Homo sapiens: one gene and its partner. The protein of the gene in region 2 interacts with the protein of the main gene of each other region in a pairwise test. Each region holds a gene or a part of one and is shown on either strand. Other genes may lie near its edges. The genes, in order: ANKS1A and TOX2.

Region 1 (3,500 bases), on a different chromosome or scaffold from region 2:
AAAATAGTTTTTCAAGAATGTCTTTCTTTTTTTTTTTTTTTTTTTTTTTTTCTGAGACAGTGTCTCTCTCTCTCGCCCAGGCTGGAGTGCGATGGCACGATCTCGACTCATTGCAGCCTCCACCTCCCGGGTTCAAGCGATTCTCCTGTCTCAGCCTCCCGAGTAGCTGGGATTACAGGCGCACGTATTTTAGTAGGGACGGGATTTCACTGTGTTGCCCAGGCTGGTCTCGAACTCCTGAGCTCAGGCAGTCTACCCTCAGCCTCCGGAAGTGCTAGGATTACAGGCGTTAGCCACCGTGCCTGGCCTTTTTTTTTTTTCTTTTTTTTTTCAGAGACAGTGTCTCACTCCTTCATCCAGACTGGAGTACAGTGGTGCAATCTCAGCTCACTGCAACCTCTGCCTCTCAGGTTCAAGTAATTCTTGTGCCTCAGCCTCCTGAGTAGCTGTGATTACAGGCATGCACCACTGCACCTGGCGAATATTTGTATTTTAGTAGAGACAGGGGTTTCACTATGTTGGCCAGGCTAGTCTCGAACTCCTGACTTCAAGTGATCTGCCTGCCTCGGCCTCCCAAAGTGCTGGAATTACTACAGGTGTGAGCCCCCACGCCCAGCCAAGAATGTCTTAAAATACTCCCTTTAAGTGTGATTTTGTTGGGAGGGCAGCCCTGTTCCTGCATTTTGGAATTGCTGTACTTACATTTTTGCTTTCTCTAAAGCAGAGTGTGGTTCCCATGTTAAAAAACAAAAGGAAACAAAAAAAGGTAACATGCTTGGAAATGACTTTTGTGGTAGTTACTTTATATGTAAAAATCTAGAAGGTGCCTAATCTTAAACTGAGTAAGGCATTTACTTAGAATTAAAGATAATTTACCCAGCCTGGGCAACATGGCAAGACCTCGTTTCTACAAAAAATAAAAAAACTAGGCCAGGCGCAGTGGCTCACGCCTGTAATCCCGGCACTTTGGGAGGCTGAGGCGGGTGGATCACCTGAGGTCAGGAGTTAGAGACCAGCCTGGCCAATATGGTAAAACCCCATCTCTATTAAAAATACAAAATCAGCTGGGTGTGGTGGCCTGCATCTGTAATCCCAGCTACTTGGGAGGCTGAGGTAGGAGAATTGCTTGAACCTGGGAGGCAGAGGTTGTAGTGAGCCAAGATCGTGCCATTGCACTCCAGCCTGGGCAAAAAAGAGCGAAACTCCATCTCAAAAAAAATAAAAATAAAAAATTAGCTGAGTGTGATGGCATGCACCTGTGGCCCCAGCTACTCAGGAGGCAGAGACGCAAAGGTGGGAGAATTGCTAGAGCCCAGAAGGTGGAAGGTTGAGGCTGCAGTGAAAAGAAAATTTACTACAAAGTTTAAGATTTAAAGTCAGTGGTCTCCCTTTTTCCTGCATCCTCCAATTGAAGTTCAGTTTTTACTTTCTTAGTTGCAAAAATTAGAGACAGGAAACAATGAAACAAGCTTGTGATCTGAAGAATTTGACTTGTATCTAGTAGCTTCAGCATGTTCACGGGTCATAGGAGGTTATGGTCCCAGTGAAAGTTACATTCTTGGCCAGAAAAATCCCTTCAGGAGGTTCTTTTTCCCACATTGGATTGTTCACCCCAAACAGCTGTGAATTCTGGTTTGCAAAAGGAAGTCCAGGCTATTTCTGCCCTAGTCTTTCATAGGGAAAGTAAATTACTGGGTTTTTAGCCCAGAAACACTAAGGAAACCCCAGAAGTAGACAGTGGAGAGTTTGTTCTTAGAAAAATCAGGCTCTCCTGTGGGTAGGAACTTGGTCTCTTTTTTGGAGAGCTCTCAGAAAATATTTCCCACACTGATTTCCAAAGGATTATTGGGAGATTTTCTGTGGTAGAGAAAATTATATCGTATAATATGTTACATTCATAGAACATCTTCACATAACTTTGGTGTGGTTAGAGTTAATGGTAGTAATACTGGAAATTATATGGTATGTCTTCATATTTATCCTTTCTCAGTAATTTGTAGATCAAGTTTGTTTAGTTTACAAATCAAAAAAGAGTTTTTAAAACAAGTCAGTTGTCTCTGCTTTGAAACAAGATAGTTGTATCTGTTTGTGATATTATTACCACTGATCCAGGAAGCAGAACTGCCTCCTGGCCTACTTAAGTGGTGAGGACATACTATGGTGGCTAAGGATCAGGTTCTGACCCAACTCTGCCTTGTGACTTAGGCAAATTAAGTCACTTTTCTGCGCCTCTGTGTCTTCATATATATAATGGGCCTGGGATGGTGCCTATCTTCTAAAGCAGCATTAAATGAGCTAAAGGATGTAAGGCATATAATGCCTGGCACATGGCAAGGGTTTGGTAACCCTCAGCTGCTAGAATCATCTAATGGGAGCCAGGTGCTTGCCACCCTTGATGAATCAGAGTGAGGACCCTGTTAAGGACATATCTTTTATTGATGTTGCCATTTTAACATTTATAATAATTCACAGCAGAAGCTCCCAACCTTTTAAACTATGAAGAGTCCCATAGTTTTAAAAAGCCTGAAAATTGGCAATGGTGGCAAAGTTACAAAGCAATCCAGGTCCACAATCCTTTGTTTGAAACCTTGGGGCCAGATATGTTTTCAGGGTGCTGACTCAATATTGTATATTGAGTCCCTAGTGGGACTGTGGCAGCACCCTGGAAACATTGTATTTCTACAGCAAAACCTGTAAATATTGACTAAATGGGATAAATATGAAGCCGCTTCATATCAGCGTAGGTCAGGTTTTGCAGCTAAATGACTGCTGCTAACTTATGAAAATATATTTTCAGAGCTTTTTGGATTTCTGAATTGTTGATAAGGGACTGTAAACCTCTGCCTTTATGGTAGAAAAATTGCAAGACAAAGAAATGCACTAAGAAGAAAATAAAATCAGTTATAATTTTACCACCTACAGAAATTAACTTGAAATTTTGGTGTACAATCTTGTTTTTTTCTGTGCAAACTTTTTTTTTTAACAGAAATGACATTATTTTGTATATACTTTGTCTCATGTTTTCACGAACTATATTGTGAAAACACTTTCCTATATTTTCTGTCCTCCTCAACCTCATTTTAAATGGATGTGATATCCGTGGTATATATGAATTGTAATTAATTTAACCCCTTTCCTGACATGGAACATGAGTTTGTTTTTCGTTTTTTGCTATTAGAACAGCTCTGTGATGAACATGCATGTGGATAAGTTTGTGTGTACATTCTGCTTATAACATTTGATATATTCAATAGAATGGTAGGTGTAGTTTCAACATTCAGCCATTGCAGAAATCAACAGCTGAATATTCAAATTGCACCTCAAAATCAACAAGAAACATACATGTTGTTGAATTTGAGGACTCATAGTAATTCTGAGGCCCCTTACATCTCCTGGGTCCTTCTGACTGGGAAGTAATATACTGATTTATGGTTGCTAAATACTACTTATATTCAGAAAGTAACCTTTGTGCAAGCCCAGGACTTTTTAATGGTTAACTT
Region 2 (4,028 bases):
CGCATTTTAACTTTCAGTTGGGCTGCTCTTTGTGGATGAAAATGAAAGCATTTCCTGCTGGGGCCAAGTGCTACACATACATGGTCTCCAACCCTCAAGCTCCAAAGGGGAGATGTCAATGTCCCCATTTTACAGATGAGGAGACTGAGTCCAGGGAGGTTAAATAACTTGCCTGCCCTGATGGTGGTGAAGGCAGTGTTCAAACCCAAGTCTGCCAGGTTCCAGAATCCATGATGCCTTCATATCCTGAGACCAACTCTAGGAAATCAGAGAAGCAAAATAGATTGCCCTACAGAATCACATGGGGCAAGGAGCCACACAGCAGGGGGACTGCTGGACCAAGGGGGAGGCACAGGACCTTGTCCTTCATGCAGGCTCAGCTCCTCTTCCCGCCTACAGGCTGCTCTGTGTGCCAGGCTCTGTCCTCCGAGCCCACTTGGGGAAGCTCCTCTAGGAATGGAAGGTCCGCCAAAGACTCTGTGCCTCTGCGGGGTCCTGCCCTGGCTCCTTGTGCCCCACAAAGTCTTCAGATGACAACAGCCAAACAGATGCTAAGTTCCTCAAGCCACAGGTTACAACTGCCAAGCCCTAGATTCATTCATTCATTCAGCAAATATTTGCTGAGCATCTATGTGTCAGGCTAGCGCTGGGAATACAAAAGTAAAGGCAGACACAGTGGTTCCTGTCCTCTGAAGGATAGCAGGCCCATCTCCTCAAAAAGCACCATTCCCACCAGCATTCCCTCCCAGTGCACCCTCCACAGTTAGAAATGACATTCCCAGCCTTTATTTCATTATATTTCCACCCCCACACCATCCCTCTAGGCTGATGGTCACCGGTTTGCCTTCCCTTTGCACACAGGGAAACAGAGGCCCAAAGAAGGGTGCTGACAGGCTCAAGGTCACCCAGCAGATCGGGGGCAGCAGTGCCAGGCTTGGGCTGCTGGTCCTGCCATGCAAACATCCTGGGGTCCTTCCTGGAGGAGCCTCCAGCACAGGTTGGGGGAGGAGCTATAGGGAGCATGTTTAGATGGAAAGTAAATGAGAGCTTCCTAGCAGAGATGCAGACATCCATCTAGCGTTCCCTGGGACCAGCCATCTCAGCTCTAAGCCCACCCATCCCAGGGTACCTTCCATGGGACCCATTAGCAGCCACCTGTGCCCCTGAAGAAAGGAGCTGTGGGAATCTCACCCACCAAGTATGCCGGGCAGGCCTCACATAGGTCAAGTCCAGATCAAGTCCATAGTTTAACCCCACTTCATGAATTTTTGTCAAAAAGAGTCCTCAATCATTCATTAACCAAGCTTGTCCAGATCTCATCCTTACAAGATGCTGTGCCCAGAGCTGTGTGGGTGGGAAGTTGAATCCTTCACCCACCAGCACATATTTACTGAGCAATTATGAGTCAGGCACGATGCCAGGTGCTGGGCAGAATTCCTGCCTGCCAGGAGCCCACAAAAGCCTGTACACAAACAACCAAACAACTGCTACACAAAGTGTGGTCCTTGGATCAGCAGTAACAACACCTGGGTAGCTCATTAGACATGCAAATTCCTAGGACCCCATGCCAGACCAACTGAATCCAATCTCTGGGGGTGGAGCCCAAGAATCTGTTTTTACAATCTCGCCAGACAAAAGACACGGAATCAACCCAAATGTCCATCAGTGTTAACCTGGATAAAGAGAATGTGGTACACATACACCATGGAATACTATGCAGCCATAAAAAGGAACAAGATCATGTCCTTTGCAGTGGCATGGATGGAGCTGGAAGCCATTATCCTCAGCAAATTAACATAGGAACAGAAAACCAAACACCGCATGTTCTCACTTATAAGTGGGAGCTGAACAATGAGAACACATGGACACAGGGAGGGGAACAACACACACCGGGGCCTGTCAAGTGCCGGGGGGAGGGAGGGAGTGAGAGCATCAGGATAAATAGCTAATGCATGCGGGGCTTAACTCCTAGGTGATGGGTTCATAGGTGTAGCAAACCACCATGGCAGACGTTTACCTATGTAACAAATATACACATCCTGCACATGTATCCTGGAACTTAAAATAAAATTTAAAAAAAATCTTGCCAGCTGATTCTTCATGTGTACATAGATTTGAGAAACACTATTCTAGACCACAAGGCCTTCCTCAACTTCCCTATTTAACAATCACAAACCAGCCCCAGGCCTTGGGACTCCCAACTCTCTTTCCTGTTCCATTTTTCTCCAAAAGTCATATTCCCATCAATCATGATACCATATATTTCACCCATATATTTATGACTTCCCACACTGATAAATAAGCTCCAGAGGGCAGTGATTTGAGTGACTTTTGTTCACTGCTGCAGCATCAGTTGCTGTGCACAGTGCCTAGCACCAAGAAGTGCTCAATAAATATTTTTGGTAGAATGATGGATGGCAGAACATGCCACATCCTATGCAGTATCAGTTCTTGGGGAAGCCTGGAAAGAAAGAGAAGTTTGCTGGCTGTGAAGCACCACATGGGGAAGGTGGTACCCAGGTTGGCCTTGATGAAGGCCTTCATCCCTTCAGTCCAGGGACGAAGGATGCTGGAACGGAGATGCTAAGCCTCTTCCTGGAATGGGCCCCAGATGGTTGATATTGTTGTTATCTAATTAGTAGCTGGTATGTGCCAATAACTGTCCTAACCTGTATCACCTCACTTAACCGTCCTGAAACTCAGAGGTAGGCAATGTTGTCTTTGAGAGAACACCAAGACTCAGAGATATTAAATGATTTTCCCCGCCCACAAAAAGACTTGTATAAGAATGTTCACAGTAGCTTTACTTATAATAGCTCCAACTTGGAAACAAACCCAAATGTCCACCTGCAGGTGAATGGATAAACCAATTGTATTATATTTATACAATATAATATTACTCAGCAATTAAATGGAACAAACTATGGATATATACAACATCGTGGATGAATGTTGAAGACATTACATTGAGCAAAAAGAAGACAGACACACAAATGTTTATGCTGCATATCAAGTTCTAGAACTTAAGCATGGTTAATATACCTAAATTGAACTTAAAGAAAGCATTGGTAACAGAAATCAGGTAAGTAGTTGCCTCTGGAGGTGGGGATAAGGCGTGCTGTCTATAAAGGGATGTGAGGGAACTTCCTGGGATGACGGAAATGTTCTCTATCTGGACTGGGATGCTGGTTACATGAGTGTTAATATTTATCAAAACTCATGGAACTGTACACTTAAAATCTTCATGTTATTGTATGTAAATCACATCTCAGTAAAAAATGAGCTAAAAATCATTTGCCCTAGGTCACTAAGCAACAAATGGACATTTGAACCCAGGCTTGCCCAGTTCTGATGGCTAGTTTACACTAGTCTGCCATAGTTGAGCAGGGATCCCCCAGCTGTCCCCCAGCCTGGTAAGATGCCTTGCCAAAATCTGAACCAGGAGTTCATAGTTACCCTAAGAAAGATGTTACAGGCTCTAAACCCCTGAACCATGACAGAGACTTGCAAAAAAGCCAAACAAGTGTCCTGCTGGGAGTCAAACCTGGGCTCAGGCCTCATCTTTGTTCCTTACTTGCTGTGTAATCTGTGAGTTACACTCCTCTGTGACTCAGTTTCCCCTTCTGTAATGCAAAGAAGGAGGAGACCAATGGTTCCCAGCATGGAGCCACAGATCCTGGGAGCCATGGGGCCACAAATCCCTATGCTCAAAAAGCACCTTTATTACATTAAATAGTAATGAGTCTTCTTCATACCTGTTAAGCTATTTTTCTAATGCATGCTAATATTGTGTTTAATAAAATACACATCTATTTCAAAGCAAAAATAAAACCATAACAGCTTTTCATTAGTGTGCATTTTCTCAAACAAAAGATACCAAAAGAACAACCAATGTTCGTGACTTTGGTTTAAAGAGGCTGGGAATCTCTGTGTAGAGGATCGCTAAGGGGACAGTCGCCAAGGGGATGGTCGCCAAGGGGACGGTCGCCAAGAGCCCTTCCAGGTCAACTGCCCCATAGGTGTCGGGC

The links.
Region 1: the proteins of TOX2 (region 2) and ANKS1A interact in a two-hybrid assay, tested with the Homo sapiens proteins (one large-scale study listed by BioGRID).

What each region holds. Positions count from the first base shown.
Region 1 is NC_000006.12:34,895,755-34,899,254, forward strand, and holds part of ANKS1A (ankyrin repeat and SAM domain-containing protein 1A), read left to right. Parts: intron 1-3,500. UniProt on the Homo sapiens protein: Regulator of different signaling pathways. Regulates EPHA8 receptor tyrosine kinase signaling to control cell migration and neurite retraction.
Region 2 is NC_000020.11:43,917,561-43,921,588, reverse strand, and holds part of TOX2 (TOX high mobility group box family member 2), read right to left. Parts: intron 1-4,028. UniProt on the Homo sapiens protein: Putative transcriptional activator involved in the hypothalamo-pituitary-gonadal system.